Regions from separate parts of the Homo sapiens genome. Here all the other regions are linked to region 3. The links come from fine-mapping of genetic effects on gene expression. A gene starts in region 3. Each other region holds a variant in brackets. All regions are shown on one strand. Distances are from middle to middle.

Region 1 (6,164 bases), 290 kb after region 3:
AATTCCAGAGCACCAGAGACAAAGAGAGGATCTTAAAAGCTTCTAGAGAAAAATCTGGGCACATTCAGGAACCAAAATGGTGCTGTACTTAAAAAGAGCATTTAATGTCTTCAAAATTGAGGGAAATTATTTTTAAGAGATAATAATCATTAACCTACAGTTTTATGCTCAGAGAATCCTTCTTCAAGCAGAAGGATAGAATAAAGATACTTGTAGATATGCAGAGATTAAAAATATACTTTCCAGGCCCCTTTACTTAGGAGGCTTACAGAGGGTGTGCTTCAGTAAGGTGAGAGAATAAACCTACAAAGAAAGAGATATGAGATCCAAGAAAAGAGGGGATTCCATCCAGAAGGGCAGCCAAAGGCGGTTCCCACATTCTGTTGATGAGAAGTCACAGCACAGCAGCTGTTGGAACAGCTTAGAGGGCAACTGGCCCTGAAATGACCCTGGAATAGAGATACAGGAAAGAGGTCTGTATGAGCACACATGAAATATTATTCAAAGGCATATGGCAGGAATGCTGGAACATTTGGGAAAATAATCTAACTCCAGATATATTAGAAAATACGGCGAAAGACAAAAAGGAGGTCATTAACTCTATAAAAAGAAGACTTTGTCTATAAGCAAAGAGGCATGGTTAAAGGATACTATGCAGAATGTGTAGCTATATTACATTGTCATAATAAAATTAACTTAAAAAGTAAACTAATTATGAAGACTCCCAACGTTATATAATTTCTGCTATCTGGCATAGTCCCTGGGCAATTCAAGGGGAAAGACAAACAAAAAATGAGTTTAAAACATTCCTACAGGTTTTCCGTACAGTACAGAGTAAATTTCATAGATTCAAAACTTACTAAATGAAGCATTCTCATATGGATGCTTGGAATCTGGGAAGCTAAGATTGACTGAAACCCAAATACTTCTCTTTACTTTCATGAGCTCTACTAGACTTCTGAGACCCACAGGAGAATACATCAAAAGCATTATTATGTTGTTCTATCAGTGAGACCATTGAAGCTGCATCCACAGTGGTGCGTGTGGACAACAGAGATCAATGGGCCTCTGGCTTCCCTGTTTGCATGGCACCTCCCCAGACCTAGCAGCCACACAGCATCTGGAGGCTCATCGCGCCTCATCCTATTACAGTGCTGATTTTTCTGCATGAACTTGCCACTGACTAAAATCTACATTTATTGTCTGTCTCCTGCACTGGAACTGAGCAAGCTCCAGAGGACATCACTGCATCCATTATTCACCGTTACATCCCTTTATATTCAAATATTTAAATGACTGAAAGAACAAAGGGTGTAACTGAAGGGAGTGGCATGTTTCTCCCATGTTTCTTATGGGGACACTCCGCCTTGCTTGGATGTTGGCTCTGGGAGGGAATGGGCCTCAGGGGATTCTGATGCCAGCCCCAACCCTGCCAGGCTTTTCAGTAACTATCACCTATTCTCCCAGTCTTCCATCTAGCCTAGTTACATCCATTCTTGTTTCTCCACCTTGGGAATTTCATGGATCCCAGAGGCATGTACTTTAAATGAGGGAATCTTTAGAACACAACTCTTGGGTAATAAATCAAAACCTCAACAATATGGGCTGACAGTCCCACCCTCGGAGCTCTTATTCTTATCTGCAGTGGAGGGGTAGCCACTTCTGGGATGGGATCCAGCAATCCATAAGCTCGTGTTCCAACACAAAAATAAATTACACAGAAAGATGTTCACCTGTTGAAATACCAGAGGTACTTCCTGAAATGCCCTGCCTGGAATTTCTCCAGGTAGATAATGGCTGTTGGTGGAGTTATTCTCTTATTCCTACATTCTCCATTATTCCTTAGTGTGCCACAGTCTACAGGATAATTCAGATGAGAGGGGCTGGATCAGGAAGACGAAAAAGTGGATAATTCAGTGGATAATTCAGACGAGAGGGGCTAGATCAGGAAGATGAAAAAGTGGATAGTTCAGTGGATAATTCAGATGAGAGGGGCTAGATCAGGAAGATGAAAAACACTCTTTCTACATAAAGAGGGATTCCTAAAGCAATCTCATTAAGAAAACTGTACGCTGTGGACCAGGTATTTGAAATAATAAAAAAAAATTATGTGCAAACATAGTTTGCCTATCTTCTTTAAATATGCTCCAGCCATGTGGTTCATATTTCCTCACTCTAGGTAGAAACCATGTGCCCTTGAGGAAGGTGTCCTCAGAGTCACTAAGTCCAGGACACGATTCTGGGATGTACAAATGTTGACTGAAGGTATGAATTTGGAAGTCGGACCGACCTTGGCTTGGCCCTGGGCTCTGTGGCTTACTGGCTACATTTCCCAGAAGCAGGTTATTTACTCAAACCTGAGTCTTGGTTTTCTCAATAGTAAAAGAGCAATGATAATAACCAACCTTACCAGATTGTTGAGGATGTAGAATGAGATAATCTGAAGAGAGCGCTTAGCGGCATGCCGAGTGCAGTCAGTACCAAAGAACTGCCACAAGCAGAGTGGTCATATACTCTCTTTCCACAGGCCAGCCTGGGAAGCAGTACAACCCTGAAGAATCTCTGCAGACAGGTCAGTGGGAAGAACTAAAGCTATCAGAGGGGTCTGGATATATCCTACAGTGATTGCAACAAGACTATAAGTACCCTTGCCAGTTAGAACCAAGTTATTTGGAATATTAGATCTTCAGTCACAAGGATAAATTTACGCACCACTATTTCTCCCTAGTATGGTCTGAATGTGTCCCCCACAAAATTCCCATGTTGAAACCTAACCCCCAGTGCAACAG[T/C]ATTAAAAAGTGTAGCCTTTAGGTGGTGATTAGGTCATGAGGGCATCAGTCTCATGAATAGGATTAGTGCCCTTTTATAAAAGAGGCTTACGGGGGTGTGCCTGTCCCTTCCCCCATGCGAGGACATAGCAAGAAGTCACCATCTGTGGGGACGGAGCCCTCACCAGACACCAAATCTGCTGGTGCCTTGAACTTGGACATTCCAGCCTTCAGAACTGAGCAAATAAACTTCTGTTGTTTACAAATTACCCAGTCCAAGGTATTTTGCTATAGCAGCTCAGACTAAGTTACCCTCTAAACTCAAATTAAGAGAAAATAAGTTATGAGGGGAGAAAAGGGAGGGCATGCACACGAACTTTCTTCAGGAATGCTGCCTGCTTTGGGTTGGCTCCATTCTGGATTTCAGTCCAGCCACCTCCAGTAAGGGGCAAGTGAACAGGTACTTTTCAGAGTATTTGTTTTTTGGTTTCTAAAGGATGCCATTATCTCATTTCTTCAGAAAATCATGAATAATTTTAGTTCTGAATGTTTGAAGTAATATAAGAATAATGTCTGTAGGCAATGTTAAAACAAGAATCTAAAAATGAGACTGTAAGGCCAGCAGCACGAATATGGTTGAGTGGCTTTTTAAACTTATCATTATGAGGACTGCTACCTGTTTCAGGCAAACAGTGTTCCCCAGGCTGCACCAAAATAACATCTGAAGTTATATCACTAAGAATGAGGTACTTTTCAAACTGTGCTTTTATGGTTTCAAAAGGGGATTTTTGGAGTTTTTAATCCATAAGTGGCCTGGAAGATGCTCACAACTGATGCTGCTACAAGGTGCTGCTGCTTTGTAACTAAAAGTGTGAAGGCACTGAAGGTAAACAGTCTCCTTAGCACAGACACTTTGGAAGCAGCAGCAGCTCAGCCCCAGGTACCACGCCCCACCCTGCCTTAGAAGTAAGCATCTGCAATTAAGCCTTCTACTTAAGCTAGTCTGAAGAAACTTCCCACCGCTAATCTTCCGGTAAGCACCCAGACCCAACCGGAAATTTGGTCTCCCCTACCCCCTTCAAAAAAGATAACCCGTTTTGGGATGGGAAGAGTGAAATCCTAATGTCCTGGAATGCGGCTAGTTTCCATTCTCATGGTTAGTAAATCTGCAGAGCTTTCTGGCTCTTGAGACCTGACTGAGGCTTAATCTCTGGCTGTATCAATCTGCATTGGCATTTCCAGGACAGACCATGCTCATTCAACAAATGTCTGGAAAGTAATGTCACAGAACAAGGTCAGTGGAGAAAGGAGAAATAAGAGAAGAAATATATTGAATTGGGTCCCTTGGGATTATGGAAATAGCATTATTATCAATAAAGAGATTAATGACAATGGGGTAAACATTTTTAAAACTTAAAGCTAAACATAAAGCTAATGACATTTGTGAACACAGGATTTATCTTTTTCACATCCAAAGATGTTACTCTAGAATCTTTCCGATATTTTCTGGAAGCTGATTTGACAGTGTTGTATAATTATCTATAAAGACAGATACTTCTTAATTTTAATTTTAAACATGCTGTCTTGTATTTAATGTCCGTTAGTTTTCTGAAAGAGTTTAACAGAGAACTAAGTCTCCACTCTATTAAGTTTAATGCAAATTAAATAAAGAAATTGCAAAAATGCCTTCTGGTTATAGACTATGTTTATTTATGTACATATTCATTAGGCACATACTACATAATAATAATGATTATAGAAATAGCACTCAGACCGTGCTTACTATGTGCCAGAACCACTCTAAGGCATTTTGCAAATACGAACATATTAACTCTTAACAATGACTCTATGAGGCAGGGGCTATTACTACCCTTCATTTTACAAATGAAGAAAATGAGGCCCAAAGATGCTAAGGCATTCAATACTTTACCCAAGAAAACCCTCGCTCTACCTTAGCTAGAGAGAGATGGAGTTGGAATTTGAACAAGGCAGGCTGGCTCCACTATAGATGCTTCTCATGACTACCATGTGGCCAAGGAAGAAATTGAGGTGCTGAGAGGTTAAAGCCTCCCCCAAATTTGCCATCCCCACTTTTGGCAGTAGTTCTGTTGCTCTGTGCTTATGTATCAAAGCTGAGGTTTCTGAAGCTTTTTCTGCAGTTTTCTTCTGGCTCTTTTCTCGAATACTGGTTCATGGGTCATCCCACTGGGATGTAAATTAGAATAAAGTATCTGTGTCCAGCTGCCATCAAGAAAGCACCACATCGAATCACATCAACTGTTCTCAGGTAGAGCTCAGTTAGCTTCTGCTTTATTAGATTCAGAGAAAAATACCTCACTGAGATTCCCTAATTGGTTTACCTAATAATACTGATTTTTCCCTCACACCGGTTAAGGGATTCTGGACAGATCGGCACAAAAATGCTATAAAATAAACCTGCCACAATAGAGGCTCTTTGCTTTCAGCCATCCTGTCAGATCCTGAGATATGCACTCACCTTCTCACTTGCTTTCTTTAGGTCTCGAGGGAGCAGCTAGGCTTATACTCCTGAAGGCAGCCCCCAAATGCTGTGTGCATCGCGTTAAGAAGCTTGAAATGGTTTTGAGTTAGCAAACCATTCCTGATGCTCTACAATCTGTTCTCCAGCCTCAAGAATTGAGAATTATAAGCCTTAAATGGAATACATTCTGGACAAAACAAATAAGGTAATTTACTTGTCTTTTTTTTAATCTCTTCCTGGAAACTGAATGTTCATTCATTTATAATCTCTTGGTTTACTATCATGACACATTCAAGTTTCAGTGCCTGGGAGAAATAGGACTCCCAAGAACTTCAAAATAGGCTTATTCCACAGATGTGTTACAGAAGATTTAAAAGTATTACGAAATATATCTGGTCTGAATATTAGGGTTGGCATATTTGTATATGAAATAGGTGGGTTAGCTCCTTCTTTATTCAGGCATTGTTCTATCTGTCAAATAAGAAAAGCCTCATTGAAAAGGGGATATCTGAGCAAAGTTATGAAGAAGGTAAAGGAGTAACCACAGAGATGCTAGGGGAAAGACAAGTGCAGAGGCCTGGAGGACAGGTGTGGCTGGCATGGGAGGAAGGAGATGGAGAGATAATGGACACAACCTGTCAAGGACCATGGCTGTCTTCAAGGAGAATGGGACTCTACTGTGAGGTTTTGCATCCAGGAGAGAGGGCTCAGACTCACGGGTTAGAGGGAGCTTTCTGAATGCTCTGTTGGGAAAAGACTGCAAGAGGGAAGAACAGAAGCAGGAAACAGTTAACAGGCTAATGCAATGATCCGAGGGGTTTGAACCATGATGGCAGTGGTGAAAGCTGGTTGTTTTCTGAATATATTTTAAAAGTACAGCCAATTGGTTACCAGGC
Region 2 (6,164 bases), 320 kb after region 3:
GACCTTCAAGTGAAGAAATACTTTATGATCCATATACACTAAAGTTCACCAATTCATGTGGCTGATGCAAAAATGTGCCTCCGATAGGCAGCATTAAGACCATAGAGTTGATGTGAAATAAAACCATTCATCTGTGAAGGTTTTTACTTTAGCCTCTCCTGCCCTTTGTTGGACCATTTGATTGTCATCTTAAAACGTCAAAGCTTTATTGCAGAGTTTTTACCACTGCTAAAGGAATATTCATGGCACTAGTCTCTTATCCTGTCAAAGGCAGTATTTATATACATGAGAATATAAAACTCTTGTAACAAGGAAAAATGTCACAGATTTACAAAGGATCAAGTTTACAAGGCAGCAAGTTGGTGTACATGTTGCACCCCATGAGCCCTCTGATCAAAAAGCTAGTATTAAAAGCAGAGAAGTCTGTCCTTGATAGTTTTTGGACAGAATATCACTTGGTCTTGGAATGCAGTTAGAACTCCTCCACCCTCTTTTCACTCTAAGGACACTGCTGAACCCAAGATGAAGGTGCAACTCTCAAGTGCGGCTCCATTTCCTTGTAACTTCTACACAAATTCTAGTGTGTGCCATCAACTGAAATCATAGAACTTTCTAAAGTTTGGGGAATGAGAGAAATATAATTTGGTTTGTTAAATAAGTATTCATATTCATAGCATCCCATAAAAAGAAGCATATACAATCCTTCTACTCAAATCTCTTCCAAGAATGAAGATAACACAGACAATGTATTATAGAGAAAGAAACACATTTCGTTGAATTCAGAATTCTGTCTAGAAATGTTATTTTACTGCAGGAGTTTTAAACTAGATATATGACTTGAAGCGTCATTTGGAACTGGGAATTCATCAAGTCAGTAAAATAATGAAGACATTTATGGAGAGACTTGGGTAAGAGGGAAGACTCACTGAATATATATATGAATGAAGCAAAATAAAGTTCAATGGAGAAACTAAAATTGTGATTGTCCTTTAAAATTAATTGTAGAATATTTATAATCCTAGCATACTACAACAGGTGTAAAATAAATACATTTTGATAGTCTGTGTGTTACTTAAAACTACTATCAAAATAAATTTTTTTCTTTTAATTACATTTTAGCAACATTTACTGGGCCCCTCTTATAAGCCAGTCAAGTGGGAACCAGGTATCAGGTATTGAGTTGAGGTCCTAGAGAGTTTTACTTCTGGGGAAGCCTCTTGGATTCACCCAACAGATAACATTTTTGAAAGTTACAAATTAGTTTTGTAAGACCAATTTACTTTCCCATTGATAATTTACTCATGTTTATATTAGTTCAATTGATTTTTAAACTGGGCACTGGCCCCTAAAGGTTAAAGTTTAGAATGTAATAAAAACTTTGAGGATCAGTAATCTTCAAAGTATTTTCTTACTACAGAAGCTTTCTTTAAAGACAATGTGGAACATTGGTATGCAAAATAGATGAATGCAGAGTGGTTTTGGCTAAAGGAGAGACCCAAATCTCAATCCCCATCAGCCTTGAAACCACTAATACTCCAGGGAACAGGGTTTGAAAATCACTGCTGGAGTTCAATTCATTCATTCTGCCGATGAGCCAATGAGGAGATGGCCCCAGAGAGAGAGGTCAAGTTTTGGAGTTGTGATGGCGAATGAGGCAGAGGAGCTTGTATCCTGGCTTTTCCAGTTATGACCCATGTAGCTTTGAGAGGTCCCTTTTCTCTGATGCTCTGTTGCCTCATCTATGAAGCTGATATAACAGTTTACTCCACCCCTCCAGGCCGCTGAAGTGAAAGTGCTTGTGAAATGTATATGCCTATTCAAAAAGCAAATTGCTACAGCTGCTGCTCTAACAGAAGCCTTAAATCAGAGAACTGGAAGCGAAGCCCACCGATCTAAGTCACAGACAGATAGGTGACCTCTCCAGGGCTCTAGATAAGGTAGAAGGTGACGCACAGCGCTGGTTTCTTTGGCACTACTACATGGTAAACACCCCTGAGGAGGAATCTTGGTTGGCATCTGCAGCAAGTTCTTTTGTTCAGAGAAACCTTCAGAAAATCTAATGTGCTGAAAAAACATGACTTCTAAATAGTAGGAAAATATTTACCTCCGAAGTCTGTGAAGCACCTGGCACCTAAAGCACACTGGACACTTGGCAAGACTGTTTAGAGGCACAGATCTGCAACCAGACGGTGTATGGTGTGAGCTCAGATCTAGCCCCATGATCACGTGCTATGTGTCCCATCAACTATCTGTTGTGAGAATGAAGGGAGATGATGCACTAAAGGGCTGAAGTGCCTGGTGAATGCCAAACAAAATACCAGCTCCACTGTCCTCACCTTGTGCAATATCACATAAGTCAGTCATGACAGTACGGAGCTATTAGCCCATTAACATTCCTTTGTCTTTACTGGGGGAAATATACCTCTATTGAAATGGACCCTTAAAGCATCACCATCCATCACTGACAAGTGAGGGGACTGGGAACTTTGCAAAGGTGGCAGTTTGTAGAGTATTTTACATATGAGAGCAATATTGCACAAATTTACAACAGAAGTAGCACTCTCTGTGGAATGTCCTAAGAAGTGCACAGTGGTCCTATTTATGCGTAACG[T/C]TAAGTGCCAATAAAGAGGTGACTTCTCAGTATGAGACTTAAGAACACTTCAGGTAGCACTTCAAAGCCAGGTTTCAGTCGTCTGAAAAACAAGATACTGACTGAATGAAAGGGTCTAATAATCATAAAATGGTTTTAAACATAGTGGAGTTTAAAATTAATAAGATACTATAAACATGTATAACATGAAGTATTATTAATAAAATATAATAAGAAATTCAAAATTGTTGCAGATTTGGCATAAAATGTCTTCAAGCGATCTCTTAATTTCCTGTTTCTTAATGGTAGATTTAAAGTCATATATTCATATAATTTTTTCTTTATTATACTTAGCATCTTAATCTAATGTGTAGTGACCAAAGACTGCTAAAAGTAAGAGAGATGCTCTCAAAGGCTCCAAATGAGGCAATTTACTTTGGCTTAACCCTCTTGGAGACTACCTTAGAAGAGCTGCAGATTCGGTTATGAACATGACCACTGTACATAGGTGATGAACACAGCGTTAATTTCATTTTAGCCACATTTATTAGGCCCCTCCTATAAGCCAGTCAAGTGAGAACCAGGTATCAGGTATTGAGTTGAGGTCGTAAGGAGTTTTACTTCTGGGGAAGTTGGCTTCACCAATCAGAAAACATTTTGGAAAGTTACAAATTAATTTTGTAAGCTAAATCATACTTTCCCATTGATAATTTACTCAGGTTTATATTAATTCCATTGATTTTTTAATTGAGCACTGGCCCCTAAAGGCTAGAGCTCCGTGTGTGAATGGCCAGTGCCCAAGAACTGCAGTGGGGGATAAACCACCCCGCAAAAACTTCATATGCAGCACACTTCATAACAGGGTCATCTGTGGGGGGTTCAAAGTAGAGAAAATAGATATCTGGTGGAGAAGAAAGTGAACATGATCTTAAAATGTTTCATAAATCAATGTGCCAGAGGTATTCCAGCATTCCTTATACTCTAAAAATGAATGTGAAACTTTTTCAGGCCCAAGTTCAATACAAACATCTCTCTGGCTCATAGGCCAATGGTCAAAATCTTAAATTAAATCTAGAAGTGTATCAACTTTTTGTTTGTTTTCTTGAGACAGAGTCTCGTTCTGTCACCCAGGCTGGAGTGCAGTGGTGCGATCTCGGCTCACTGCAACTTCCATCTTCCGGGTTCAAGCAATTCTCCTGCCTCAGCCTCCCGAGTGGCTGGGATTACAGGCACCCGCCACCACATCTGGCTAATTTTTATATTTTTAGTAGAGATGGGGTTTCACCATATTGGCCAGGCTAGTCTTTAACTTCTGACCTCAAGTAATCTGCCTGCCCCGGACTCCTGAAGGGCTGGGATTATAGGTGTGGGCCACCATGCCTGCCTACATGTGCATCAGCTTTACAAGACTCTTCAGTTGATTAAAGGAAGGGGGCATGACCCCCACAAAAAGTAATTTCTTCCCTTTACCAATACAGCATGGAATGCTGAATCACAAATACAACTAGGAGAGTAAATGAAAACGAAGCCTGCTTTTTCTCCTGTTTTTGATGCCAATTGCCAGGTTCAGAGAGTGATGCGTCAATCCCTACTCTGACTGCCCTAGCATCCTGTGCCTCGGTGTAGCCACTCTAACACCCTCTGTAAAAACAGTGTCCAGAGGGAAAGTCCTGGGAGGTGCAGGGTGCAACCTACTCCTTGTACTATGCTTAGAAACCAATGCCACTCGGTGGGGACATTTACCATCATTTCCTTGGTAATGATCCATAAAATCCCTGCTGGCACCTGACAGCAGCCTCTAGGGACATAATCCCCATGAATAGGTAAAGAGTGAAGCTTCACAACCCATTCTATCTGGGGATGGAGAGTTTAAGGTGTACATGGTGGTAAGACTTCCAGTGAAAAATCATGTTTAAAAAACGGAGATTTCACCAGGCACGGTGGCTCATGCCTATAATCCCAGCACTTTGAGCGCCTGAGGTGGGAGCATCACACGGTCAAGAGATCGAGACCATCCTGGCTAACATGGTGAAACCCTGTCTCTACTAAAAATACAAAAATTAGCTGGGCATGGTGGCGAGTGCCTGTAGTCCCAGCTACTTGGCAGGCTGAGGCAGGAGAATTGCTTGAACCAGGGAGGCGGAGGCTGCAGTGAGCCAAGATCACACCACTGCACTCCAGCCTGGTGACAGAGTGAGACTCCGTCTCAAAAAAAAAAAAAAAGGAAAATGGAGATTCAAGTCCACTGCTGGAAGGAAGGAAAACATAGAGAATTTTATAGAACCACATAAATTAGAAATGAAATTAAAATCAAACACTACTTATAGGCCAACAATCACTAGAATGATGCTTGAAAATATTATAGTTCATCTTCTCTTTAGCGAGGTGTACACCATCCATACCTTCTACTGACTCATTTTTTCCTCCACTATATATGATTCAGATGGCAGCCAGCAAGGTCTTGGTCATAAGCACAATTCAGTAGCCTGCTGACCTCAGGAAAGACAGCCTTGTAACTTCTGAAGATACACAGGACAGACCACTAATATGGTGAGCTAGTTTGAACCAAAGATTCAAATACACACAGTTCTGTGGTGGATTCTCTCATATGCCATTGATCCGGATCAACCAGGAGTTAGCCGTACTCTCCTATGTACCCAGAGCTTCAGTTCTGCCTAAAATTCATCATTTTCTTGGATCTCCTCACATTTTCTTCACTTCCAACTCCAGCACTACTAGTTACTGTTCTTCTTAGGATGATTTTTCAAATATAGAGTGTTTATCCCTTTACAAGAATGTCAGTGTCTCAAGGTGGGAAAGGTTCTTAATCCCCATTTCACCCCCAGGCAAACTAGACACTGGATACGTAATTTTTAATGGAACAGCAAATGATGAGAGAATTAACATACAGAACACGAAGCCCAGGGGAGGCGTGGATGGTGGGAGTGGCCTGCATTCTGTATTCTTCATTGGCCCTGGAGTGTGGGCTTTTAAAGGTGCCACTTCCCCGAAATAGCGGAATTAACACAAGTAGTGAACGTGGAGACAATCACAAATAATTGAATCTCTGAATATTGAATCTGTGAGTCCACAGGGAACAATCAATTTGAGCAAAATTTAAAAAATGAATAAATAAACTATGTAATCTGAATTCTAGAAACAAAACCCTATTTTAAACGCAGTTGAGGAGACCAAATTCAAGCAGCCTTTGAATAAAGCTAATTACGCCTTGATTATTCCTTACTTTGACTAGTTTAAAGTTTCACCCAAGTTCTTACCATTCTGCACCATAATGTTCAACTACAACTAAACATAAATAACCCAGTTTCTTCTGTTTCTTCTCCTCTTTTGTTTCTGACTTCATTTTTGCCTTTCTTTCTCCAGCAATAGACTGTGTCTCCCCTCTTTCAGTGAAATAGCGCTTCCAGCCCTGCTAAGCCCTGTGCTGTTGTGTCTTATATCTGAAGATGTTGCTGTCAGAGCTTGTGAGAGGCAGTGAGCAAAAAGATAGATGAGCAACGTACAGTGACTTTCCTTCATATGTACAAAAAACTTCAGTCTATTAAATTCCACA
Region 3 (6,164 bases):
ATACAACTAAATACCTTAATGAACATGTGTGTGGCGGGCTGAGGGACACCAGAAGAGAAAGCAATTCAGAAATACTATTGAACACTGGTGAGGTTTTGGGCTTAGTTTTGCCACTAACAATCCCACCCCTAACTTTCCCCATGACCATCTCCTTATTTGAGGGGGATGAAGGGAGCTATGAAAATCTACTCTGATATGCAAAAAAACATTTCCGAGTCTGCAGTTTGTAACCTGGGGGCTCCCAGGGCTGGGAGGCCTTTTGGGAAGCAACTATGCAGCTTTTCTCTGGTGGTACCTGGAACACTCCCTCCTGATTCAGATGCTGACAAACCCTACACTGCATGGCAGCTAAGATACACTTACTCAGGGGTAATTCTGCTTGTTCCAATTGGTAATATGTTGCCCCTTTACTCACTCTGAAAGACTCTTAGAGCAAGCTGTTAGGGAAGTAAGAAATATCTACTGAAAGCTGCACGAACTGCGTAACTCTTAAGAAAAGCATGTCTAGATTAAACGGTAACAAGATAATCTATAAATAATCAATATCCAAGGTACCATTTGGGAAGAACATTATTTAATTCTTTTAAACTTTTGATACATACTTTATTTCTTGATATGCCATCCCTTTGGCTGTTTTCAAGTTTCTTTGCAAGTTCTTCACATTCATATTAAGTTCTAAAGGAAAGATTATCAATACTTAGATACTGTACTTGATACACCAAATCACATTCATAAAGAAATCAGTTATCTTCCTACTGCCCTAACCTACAACAAGTAGACAGGAGATGAAAAAAAAAATCCCCATCATAACTTAGGGTGGAAATGAAGGCATTCTCACAATTAGCAACATCTACCAGAGTATCTCCAAACATTAATCGTACTTTGATCCACTGGATTAAGACTGCAAACAATTTGCCAAGAATCAGGTGGTCATTAAGCAAGCTGTTCTCACTTTTCACATAAAAAGAAGAAATGGATTTAAATTAGGGAAAGGACATTAAGTTACACACTCTATTAACTTTAATGATATTAGAATTGACTAGCCAGGGAAAGTTATAGCATCTTTCTCCTGAGGAAAAAGGAATCAAATATTTGCCCAGCAACAACTGAGCCAGGATAATGTAGGAATTTTGCATAGGCCCTTTATAACATTATTTAATCCTTACACCACCACCAGCACCCTGACCTTCCTCAGTTTACAAATGAAGACACAGGATCAGACAGGTTAAGACATTTCTCCTAAGTTCACAAAACTACTAAGTAGCAGGACTAAGAGGCAAACCAAAATTGGTGGGACTACTAACTCCATGCTGCCTCTTAGTGATGTGGGTTTATAATAGGAAAGATGAGGTACACAATAGCTTCCTATCCCTTGATACTGTTTACTACTACTGAACCAACTATGGGAGCTGGAACTATTCTACATTAAGTTCACCTCCTAATGTTACACTGATCTCTCCAGCCTCCAAATTCTTCGCTTTATGCACTGCTTATTTTGGCACCCAATCATACTCCATCTTAAAATGTTATGCTAAGTATTCATACCCTATTTCTCCGAAGAAATCTGTAGGCTTCCAAAAGGTAGAACTGTCTTTTACACTTACATACCTACCCATCAATAGAGTTCAGCACCGACTAAGGATTTGATGTCCTTATTTCCACATTCGCAAAGCTCAGCAGTATGTTACAATGGATGGTGGTTTGTTCACATTAGAATGAAGTGTGGTTGTAAAGTAATACAGTAAAACTGTTCTACCAAGATTCTCCTTAGTATCTCCTTACTGATATTTACTTGTCAAATTTTTATCAATAATCTTATAATGAGACACAAAAACGCCTAAAATGAGAAAAGTGGCGTTAGTATCTGATAAAACGGGATTTGGTGCGCTACTATTTAGCTAACTAATACTAGTGTCCTACACAACATTACGAAATTTTATTTCCCAGTTTCTTCAGTGCAATGTTTTAAAGACCACAGCTTAGACAACTAGGCTGTATGGGCATAGAGTGCATCGCTTTCCTTCACCCCTTTAAAAGAAAAACCTACCTGATAAAATGGAACCATTTTTATATTTAAGTAAGCAAGTCAGAAATAGCATCCAAGACAAAAAAGAACAAATCACGTATCATTACTGTTCAGGTGACTGTCTACTTCCCTGCGGCCACAGTAACCTTTCTTCTGGAGTAAGTCTCAAGAAGGAAGCATCAACCCGTGAACCGACCAACTGACCCCGCAAAATGTCATTCTAAACGAATAGCTATTTTTACATCATACGTGGGGTGGAAGGGAGACAAAGCACCAGCGCTGGAGGCTTGGGCACTTGTGTTCACGACCACCACAGTGTCAAGACCCGACATCGGGAGACCGGGCGCCGGATTCTATCCCCAGACGGGGTCGGGGAAAGGCTCCGCCGAGGCCAGAGGTGGCCTCCAACTCGCACCAGCCCGCGCCGTCACCAGCCCGCGTCCACCGCCGCGCTCCCTCCCCCGGCTCCTCGCCTCACCTGCAAATCCCGCGCGCTCGGAGGCCGCGGCCCGGAAGACCTCCTCTCCTGCTCGCCGGGCTCAGGGCCTCCGCCCTCCGCCATCTTCCGCTGGCTAGCGGCGCCCGCTGCGGACGCACCTGCCGCAACTTCCGGGGCCGGTTGCCTGGCAACCGCAGGAGGGGCGAAGACGCGCAAGGTGCGTGCGCGTCCCCGCTACCCGAACCCGCGCCCCCGCTTCCGGTGCTGGCCCACCTTTTTGGTTTCTCCTTTTTTCTTAAAGGGAGTTTCTCCGCAGGGAAACCTCTGTTAAGTTTTGTGTTGCTCCTGCTACTCGCCTAAAGGCACTGTAGGCCGCCCTAGAGGGCAGCATAGACTTGCAGATTCATTTAGCTCAACAATGAAAACATCCTCTGGATTTTTCATCTGATGAAAAATTGCAACCTCTCCATCTAGTCTTGGTCAGATTCTCTGATCTTTCCTATCAAGGATTGGATGGTACATCGTCACCACAGCGTGAATTAGCACTGAGAGTGAAAAACACCGTAAAAAGTGCTTGGAATAATTTGCTAAAAGCAGAACTCTGCCGGGCCTGTGGCTCACGCCTGTAGTCCCAGCACTTTGGGAGGCCGAGGCGGACGAGGTGATCGAGACCATCCTGGCCAACATGGTGAAACCCCTTCTCTACTAAAAAAAAAAATATATATATATATATATATATATATATATATACACACACATATATATATACACATATATACACACACATATATATATACACATATATATACATATATATACACATATATATATATATATATACACAAAAATTAGCTGGGCGTGGCGGAGCGTGCCTGTAGTCCGAGCTACTGGGGAGACTGAGGCAGGAGAATCGCTTGAATCAGGGAGTCGGAGGTTGCAGTGAGCCGAGATCGCGCCACTGCACTCCAGCCTGGCGACACAGGGAGGATCCGTCTCAAAAAAGAAAAAAAGCAGATCTCGAGACTATCAAGCCCTCGTCATTCAACTGAAATTGATTTAGACTCTGGTCTTCTTATCCTAGGCACTTTTTGTTTTTGAGACGGAGCCTCGCTCTGTCGCCCAAGCTGGAGTGCAGTGGCGCGACCTCGGCTCACTGCAGCCTCCACCTCCCGGGTTCAAGCAATTCTCCTGCCTCAGCCTCCCGAGTAGCTTGGACTACAGGTGCGTGCCGCCATGCCCGGCTAACTTTTGTATTTTTAGTAAAGACGGGGTTTCACCATGTTGGCCAGGATGGTCTTGATCTCCTGACCTCATGATCTGCCCACCTCGGCCTCCCAAAGTGCTGGGATTACAGGCGTGAGCCACTGCGCCTGGCCTCCTAGGCACTTTTATGCCCAAGGGATGCAAAGGTAAAAAGAAATAGTCCCAGTCATTATGAAACTCAGTCTAGTAGGGAAAAGAGACATGTAAACGGGTAAGATGCAGCTTGCAGTAGAGCTTTGCTTGGGAGGGTTACAAAGGAAATGTGAGCCATGTGAGGGGAAATACTCCGTTGGTATCTGCTGTGTGCACCATGCTAGGTGCTGGAGTCGACAGCTTGCCGCCCGAGCTTTGGCATACTGATCGTTTTGATGTATAAAGGCATTTGAGGCTGGGCGTCGTGGCTGACGCCTGTAATCCCAACTCTTTGGGAGGCCGAGGCAGACGGATCACTTGAGGTCAGGAGTTTCAGACCAGCCTGGCCAACGTGGTGAAATCCTGTCTCTACTAAAAATACAAAAATTAGCTGGGCGTGGTGGCGCGTGCCTGTAGTCCCAGCTACTTGGGAGGCTGAGACAGGTGAATTGCTTGAACCCGGGAAGCAGAGGTTGCAGTGAGCAGAGATGCACCATTGCACTTCAGCCTGGGTGTCACAGAGAGACTCCGTCTTAAAAACAAAAAACAAAAAACAAAAAAAAGCATTTGATAAACAGCAGGTGCAAGAAGAGCACTCTGACCTTTTCTTCCTGAAAGCAGGAAAAGAAACTACCATGTGATAGATGCCCTCCCTATACCAAGAGGAAAGATACTCATCACCAGAGAAGGGGAGTTGAGGCCGAGAAACATCTGTACAGATATTGTTAAACTAACCAGTATCTTCCTAGATACTCTTCCACGATTGCCTCTCTTTGTTCAACCTAGTATATAAGCACTTAGGCCTAGCCACTTCTTCGGGTGTTTATTTTCCTGTGAGGACACCCACTTATACGTAAAGTTTTATTAAATAAAATTTGTATGCTTTTTCCCTGTTAATCTGTTTTGTGTCCGTTTAATTCTTGGACCCAGCTGGAGACTCTGAGAGAGTAAAGGAGAAAATTTTCTCCCCCAGCTGTGCATTCCCTGTGTAATTTCATTTATCCCTCTACCAGGTAGTTATGATTATCTTGTTATACCCGAGGAAACCAGATGATGAAGACTAACTTCACCCTGTAGTAAATGGCAGTGCCAAATACTAAACTGCACTTGTTTTCCTGATACTCTCTTAACATCAGATTCTGCCCTAGAAATCTCGGGCTCTTTAACAAGAAATGCCTCATAGAGCCAAAGACATTTTAGCTGAGTGTTGAAGGAAAGTACTTCCAGTAGAAGTATTAGACCAGAAAGAATCTTGGTAAAGGCAAAGATATTTACAAAGACACTGATATTTAAAATATTATATTCATGTCAGCAAATTGCTATATGGTTGCAACTTAGAAATGACAAAAGATGGTTATGGAATGGTGGGGAGGAGACAGATGTAGAATGGAGGCTTGAGACAGATTCTGAAGGATCTTGCCTTAGGTTGGGGATGGAATCCTCTGAGCCAGTGATTCTCTAACATTCTTGTACATTAGAATCACCTCTTCTCTCTCGTCTCCAGGTACTCAGATTTATTAATAATTGGTATAGAGTGGGAGTCAGGCATCATATTTCTTAAGATGTTCGCAAAGTGGATTTTGCTGCTGGCCATGACAGTATACCTGATGTTGGACTTGTCCTCCCACTCTTAACAACTAAAAACAACAGTTTTAAGGCATTGAGCAACAGGCAGTACAGGTCTGTGATATCTGAAAGAAGGAAAACGAACAAGGTGACTATATTTGCCCAGGCTCTTTATTTTTATTTATTTATTTTTTGAGATAGGGTTTCTCTCTGTTGTCCAGGCTGGAGTACAGTGGTGCAATCACGCCTCACTGCAGCCTCAATCTGTCTAGTTAGAGCAATCCTCCCACCTCAGCCTCCCGAGTAGCTGTTGCCTTGGCTTTCTGCATGGAACTCTCATACACTGCTAGTGGGTCCTAGAATGGTACAGCCACTTTGGAAAAGAGGTTGTCAGTTTCTTCTAATGTTAAATATTCCATTATCATAAGAACCAGCAATTCTACTCTTAAATATTGACCCAAGAGGGATATAAGTATACATTTATAAAGTATTTCAACTCAAATGTTCATAGAAGCTTTATCTGTAATAGCCTGTAAACTGGAAACAATCCAAATGTCCATCAGCCAATGAATGGATACAATTTTGATAAATCATACAATGGAATACTACTCAATAGTAAAAAGGAAGAAGTTATGGATTCACATGTCTTGAATGAATCTCAAAGATATTATCTTGGGTAAAAAAAGCCAGGTGCGAAAGAGTAAATATTGTCTGATTTAATTTATATGAAATTTTAGA
Region 4 (6,164 bases), 92 kb before region 3:
ATCTTTAACATGGTCAAAATACCTGTCCTGCCCAAGTTAGTTATTTCATTAAAGTAGAAAAATACAAGAGAAGCTTTTAAAATGTGAAAACCTCAAAATGAATGTAAAAATTATGATGATTCCTTTAGAATTTGTCAACACCTTCTTTTTCTCTACTCCTGCTAGGCATTTACAATCTCAAAACCATGTATTTAAGATGCAAAACTATATTTGTATTTGCCATAACTGGTTTCTTTCCCTATGGCTTCATGAAAATGTGGCTCGAATGTGTTTATTATGAAAGCCCCAAATTAATCACGACAAGACTTCACCAGCCCATTCCACAATAGACTCCCATTACTTTGCCCTGACTTAGAAACCTCATATACAGTCTTGATTCAGTACAGCTCTGTGATGCTCTTGGAAAATGCAAAGTGCTTTCTTAATTGAGGCAATCTGTGTCCCACTACAGAGAGGTGGTTTAACTTGTGAATTCAGGAAAGCAACTGGTTTGACTCAATTTTTTGGCCATGTTCTCAGTTCATTTTATTTAAAGCAATCAAACTGATGTGTGTGTTCTATGTTCATTGAACCATAGTGGGTTTACATAAGCTCATAGTTTTAGTTGTTCTTTTTACATTCTACTCCTCTGGTTTGAGCTTCTATGTTTTGTATATTTCCATTCATGGGGTTGAGATATTTGATTCAGGCTTTATATTTTCTGAGGCCCGGAATAAGTATTTCTTCCACACTTTAGGAAGTGTGGTCCTCTTCACTACTCTATGTAAACAAGAGGAAACTAACAGGTTGTGGTGGGATTAGAATTTAGTTTATTATTAGAACTCAGTTTATTTTGCCAGGTTTTCTGGCAACTTTACCTCTTTTCTTTGTCAGGGCACTTACGCTTTCTCCTGACGCAGTGGAAACTCCACAGGGCCAGGGCTCAGGGCTTTCTTGCTCACATTGTCTCCACTGCTGACTCAGAGCCTGGCATGTAGTAGAGGTACAGCATGTGTGTGTGTGTGTGTGTGTGTGTGTGACACAGACAGAGAGAGACAGAGAGAGTGAGACACAGAGAGAGACAGAGAAACAAGAGAGACACACAGAGAGAAAGATGGTGAGACAGAGACATAGAGAAAGAGAATAAATAAAACTTTACCAGCCGAAAAAAAGAGAAGAGAAAAGCAGGCAAAGGACGTGCCATTGAGCTAGCATTCATTCAATAACTGATGCACCAGGCGCTGTGCTAAAAACACATCCAGTTGTCATAAAATCCATTCACTCATCAGGAAATCTTTTAGTATTTCCTTACAGTCTATTAATAGTTTTGACAGCTGTAACAAGCATATGAATTTCCACCTGTTGGATTAAAAGCAGCACATTTGGGCTGTGATAAGTACCATTTGTGGACACATGACAGCAGCAAGAAGTGACATCCTGAGAAGGAAAAACATAAACTACGTATAATAAGAAAAATGAATAAATATGAATATTTAAGACTCTGCTTTTCTGGGTGTGTATGTTTCCTGTGCTTTTGTTGTATAGAAGAGGGGTTGTAAGTGTGGGAGTAAAAATATTAGGGTAAAGGAAATCTAGATAAACACTGACCAATCTACATTTGAAAGGAGCTTGTGATGTTCTGAGAGGGGGTGAGGAGGGTTGTGAATATATTTCACAGTTTTTTTTTTTTTTGACAGTTGTTATTTAGTTTTTATTTAGCTTTATATAGTTTTATTTCATAATCATAAACTTAACTCTGCAATCCAGCTAGGTATGGAAGGGAATAGGGAATATATAACACCCAAAGGAGCTGTAGCAAGAGCACAAAGATTATAGGATAACGTGAGCAAATGGGGTGGAGGGGTGCTCTCACAAGGTCTGTGGTTAGGATAAAACACAAGTCAAATTTATTAGAGTTGTGCACAGTCAGCAATGGTGATCTTGCTGGTTTTGCCCTTCCTGGACCCAAAGCTCTCCATGGCCTTCACAATACTCATGACTTCTTTCACCTTGCCAAAGACCACATGCTTGCCATCCAGCTACTCAGCCTTGGCAGTGCAGATGAAAAACTGGAAACCGTTTGTGTTGGGTTCAGCATTTGCCATGAACAACACAGGACCTGCATGCTTCAGGATGTAGTTCTTGTCATCAAATTTCTCCCTGTAGATGGACTTACCACCAGTGCCATTATGGCATGTGAAGTCACCACCTTGACACATAAACCCTGGAATAATTCTGTAAAAACAGGAACCCTTATACCCAAATCCTTTCTCTCCAGTGCTCAGAGCATGAAAGTTTTCTGCTGTCTTTGGAACTCTGTCTGCAAACAGCTCAAAAAAGGCATGACCCAAGATGTTAGATAATACAGTGGAGTTGACCATGGCTGATAGCAGGGGGCTCCGGGTGTCATCAGCATCTGCAAAGCCATGTATTTACCATTTTTGGAAGCCTTTTAATTTCAAAATGATTTTAGATTCACAGGAAGTTGCTAAGATTGTACTGAGAGGTTCCCCCATACCCTTTCCCTTTAAAAAAAAAAAAAAAAAAAAAA[G/AG]TTGGTGTCTGTCTATGTGGCCCAGGCTAGAGTGCTAAGACACAGGGCACCAAGTCCCTAGGCTGCACACAGCAGGGGGACCCTGGGCCTGGCCCAAGAAACTATACATTCCTCCTGGGAATCTGGGGCTGTGATGGGAGGGGTTGCCATGAAGACTTCTGACATGCCCTGGAGACATTTTCCCCATGGTCTTGGGGATTAACATTCAGCTCCTTGTTACTTATGCAAATTTCTGCAGCTGGCTTGAATTTCTCCTCAGAAAATGAGATTTTCTTTTCTATCGCATTGTCAGGCTGCAAATTTTCCAAACTTTTGTGCTCTGCTTCCCTTATAAAACTGAAGGCCTGGCCAGGTGTGGTGGCTCACGCCTGTAATCCCAGCACTTTGGGGAGCTGAGACGGGCGAATCACGAGGTCAGGAGTTCGAGACCAGCCTGGCCAACATGGTGAAACCCTGTCTCTACTAAAAATACAAAAAGTTAGCTGGGCATAGTCATGGGTGCCTTTAATCCCAGCTACTTGGGAGACTGAGGCAGGAGAATCGTTTGAATCCAGGAGGCGGAGGTTGCAGTGAGTCGAGATCACACCACTGCACTCCAGCCCTGGTAACAGAGTAAGACTCTGTCTCAAAAAAAAAAAAAAAAACAAAAAAAACTGAATGCCTTTAACAACACCCAAGTTGCTTCTTGAATGCTTTGCTGCTTAGAAATTTCTTCTGCCAGATACCCTAAATCATCTCTCTTAGGTTCCAAGTTCCACAAATCTCTAGGGCAGGGACAAAACGCTGCCAGTCTCTTTACTAAAACATAACAAGAGTCACCCTTGCTCTAGTTCCCAAAAAGTTCCTCATCTCCATCTGAAACCACCCCCGCCTAGATTTCGTTGTCCATATCATTATCAGCATTTTGGTCAAAGTCATTCAACAGGCCTCTAGGGAGTTCCAAACTTGCTCACATTCTCCTGTCTTCTTCTGAGCCCTCCAAACTGTTCCAATCCCTACCTGTTACCCAGTTCCAAAGTCGCTTCCACATTTTTGGTTATCTTTTCAGCCGTGCCCCACTCTACTGGTACCAGTTTACTGTATTAGTCGATTTTCATGCTGCTGATAAAGACATACCTGAAACTGGACAATTTACAAAAGAAAGAGGTTTATTGGACTTACAATTCTACATCACTTGGGAGGCCTCACAATCATGATGGAAGGAGAAAGGCACATCTCACATGGCAGCAGACAAGAAAAGAGCTTGTGCAGGGAAACTCCTCTTTTTAAAACCATCAGATCTCATGAAATTTATTCATTATCATGACAATAGCACAGGAAAGAACTGCACCCATAATTCAGTCACCTCCTACCAGGTTCCTCCCACAACACGTGAGAATTCAAGATGAGATTTGGATGGGGACACAGCCAAACCATGTCACACTACCATGCCTGACTTCCTTTCCATTTTTGTATATTTGCTTGTTCTTCATTTGCCCGAGAAGTAACTCTAAAGGGCTGTATTATTTGGATATTAGATTGGCATTTTATCTGACTGGGATATCTTGCTGTGATTGTCCATGTATAAGATCAGCTTTTCTATAAGCCATATTTTTAAAAAGATATATTAATTTTTTAAAAATCCACCTGTCTAAATAAATGCACAAAGCCCCCCAAAAACCTAGATTCTAAGAAAAATCTATGTACTGCCATACAATGATTGATATTAATATTTATGGTGATAAATTACACACAAAAAATGTGTGATCTCTGTTTAAACAGGCAAAAACAAAAAACACATGAAATAAATCTATGGCATCTATAGCCAAAACTGGAAACAACCCACATATCCATCAATAGGAAATCAGTTAAATAAATTATAGTACATTTATCCAATGGAAGATTAAGCACATATTCAATATAATTATTTATACACACATATAGATACACACATGTATAAATATAGAGAATACTGTGGGTGTATGTGTGTGTGTGTTTATATACATATATATACACACACAGTACTGTTGCCTACCTTCTTTTGTCTTAATTCTGTGAACTCTCATTCACTCTGCTTCAGTAGGATACATCCTTCTTTTTGGTTCTTAGACTCACCAAGTTGATCCTTGACTCAAGACATTGCATTTGCTGCTTCCTCTTCCTGGAATATCCTTCCTTCTGATATTCACATGAGTAGTCTCTTCTTGTCATTCAGATCTCAAATGTCACAATTTCAGAGAGCCCATCTCTGATCATCATATCTAAAGTTGTCCTCATTCCCCCATAGCTTTCTATACCATGTTTTATTTTTTTCATAACATGTATTTTATTACTCCTTTCTCCATTGGAATAGAATCTCCATTAGATTAGGAAATCTGCCTATCTTATTAATGCCTGCAACTGGAATACTTTTGAAGAGTTCTTGGCACGTAATAAATACTCAACTAATATTTTTGTGTACACAGAAATAAAGTTTGGAAGAACAGATGCCAAATTGTTACTAGTGGTTACTTCTGAGTAAAGGAGTAGCATGGTAGGTAAATTATTAATAGATGTTCACTTTCCACCAAGATATGTTTTAGTTAGTCTTAACTTACTTGAAATGAAATTTATTACTTTAATAATTAGAAACATTGATAAACATTTTAGTCACAAGAATGATAGATAAAATTTTGATGCTTCCAATAAGTTATATTTATCTAGAGGATGCACTTATGTAGAATACTCTCTTGAGGATGTTAGGTGAGTAACATGTTACTATATGTAGTAAAATATCTATGATTTTATAAAAGCACTGAAACATGAAGCAGCAGAAATGTTTTTCCCAGTTCTCTTTCCTCTGAACTTGATCACCGTCTCTCTGGCAAAGCACCTAAATTAATTCTTCTTTAAAAGTTAACAAGACCAAATTATAAGCTTGATGAATAACTCATTCTTATCTTTCTTTAAATGATTATAGTTTATGTATTTATTAGCTATGCCCATCTTAAACAGGTTTATTTGTTCTTTTTACACATACCAAACTCTTAATATTAGCTGTTGTCCCCAGGTCCGAATGTTAAGTCAACATATATTTGAGAGACCTTCAACTTATCAAGTATTGCAGGTCTCTGATTGCTTTGGAACCACTTCTGATACCTGTGGACTTAGTTCAAGGCCAGTTACTACCACTTTTTTTTTTCTAATAGAATGAACAAATGGCTAATTGTTTGCTTTGTCAACCAAGCTCAAGTTAATGGATCTGGATACTATGTATATAAAAAGCCTAGCTTGAGTCTCTTTTCAGTGGCATCCTTCCCTTTCTAATCAGAGATTTTCTTCCTCAGAGATTTTGGCCTAGATTTGCAAAATGATGACCACATCTTTGATTTGGGGGATTGCTATAGCAGCATGCTGTTGTCTATGGCTTATTCTTGGAATTAGGAGAAGGTAAGTAATGTTTTATCTTTAAATTGCTCTTTGATTCATCCATTTAATTTTTTTACCTTCATTTTTATACAGTAAATTTGGTTTTCTATACTTACACATATTAGCATTATCTTCCTTATTTTTTAAATGAAAAATTTGATTTGAATTTTTAAAGTAATATCTTTTTTACTATATCTCACAAGACATATGACAGCTTCCCTTTTTAGTATTGGCATATACCGATGGT

Direction of the effects. Positions count from the first base shown, and alleles are read on the strand shown. Sizes are in standard deviations (SD) of each study's normalised expression. Not every link is listed here.
As copies of AG replace G in region 4, the expression in regulatory T cells of the gene that starts at base 2,613 in region 3 goes up (large effect, 0.79 SD a copy in Bossini-Castillo 2019).

Evidence for each region. PIP is the estimated chance that this variant, and not a neighbour inherited with it, causes the effect. A credible set is the group of variants that fine-mapping cannot tell apart.
Region 1: its variant is the best candidate, but not a certain one, in a credible set for the expression of UBXN2B in whole blood (TOPMed, PIP 0.86).
Region 2: its variant is the best candidate, but not a certain one, in a credible set for the expression of UBXN2B in whole blood (TOPMed, PIP 0.61).
Region 4: its variant is the best candidate, but not a certain one, in a credible set for the expression of UBXN2B in regulatory T cells (Bossini-Castillo 2019, PIP 0.63).

Annotation. Positions count from the first base shown.
Region 1 is chr8:58,116,114-58,122,277 of GRCh38, reverse strand. The region is part of intron 3 of FAM110B (family with sequence similarity 110 member B); the gene reads right to left. Among named protein-coding and RNA genes, the nearest start is that of FAM110B, 120 kb to the right of the region's middle. RefSeq lists an enhancer at 3,601-4,174. The variant T/C (reference allele first, on the strand shown) is at 2,790.
Region 2 is chr8:58,083,043-58,089,206 of GRCh38, reverse strand. All of the region lies in intron 3 of FAM110B (family with sequence similarity 110 member B), which reads right to left. Among named protein-coding and RNA genes, the nearest start is that of FAM110B, 92 kb to the right of the region's middle. The variant T/C (reference allele first, on the strand shown) is at 2,612.
Region 3 is chr8:58,407,810-58,413,973 of GRCh38, reverse strand. UBXN2B (UBX domain protein 2B) reads right to left here and starts at 2,613. Exons shown (of 8, transcript NM_001077619.2): 1 at 2,505-2,613. The coding sequence starts at 2,588. RefSeq lists enhancers at 2,168-2,217, 2,498-2,547, 2,558-2,617.
Region 4 is chr8:58,499,793-58,505,956 of GRCh38, reverse strand. CYP7A1 (cytochrome P450 family 7 subfamily A member 1) reads left to right here and starts at 5,794. Exons shown (of 6, transcript NM_000780.4): 1 at 5,794-5,938. The coding sequence starts at 5,859. It also overlaps the pseudogene PPIAP85. RefSeq lists an enhancer at 5,363-5,584, a promoter at 3,916-5,818 and a silencer at 5,916-6,164. The variant G/AG (reference allele first, on the strand shown) is at 2,531.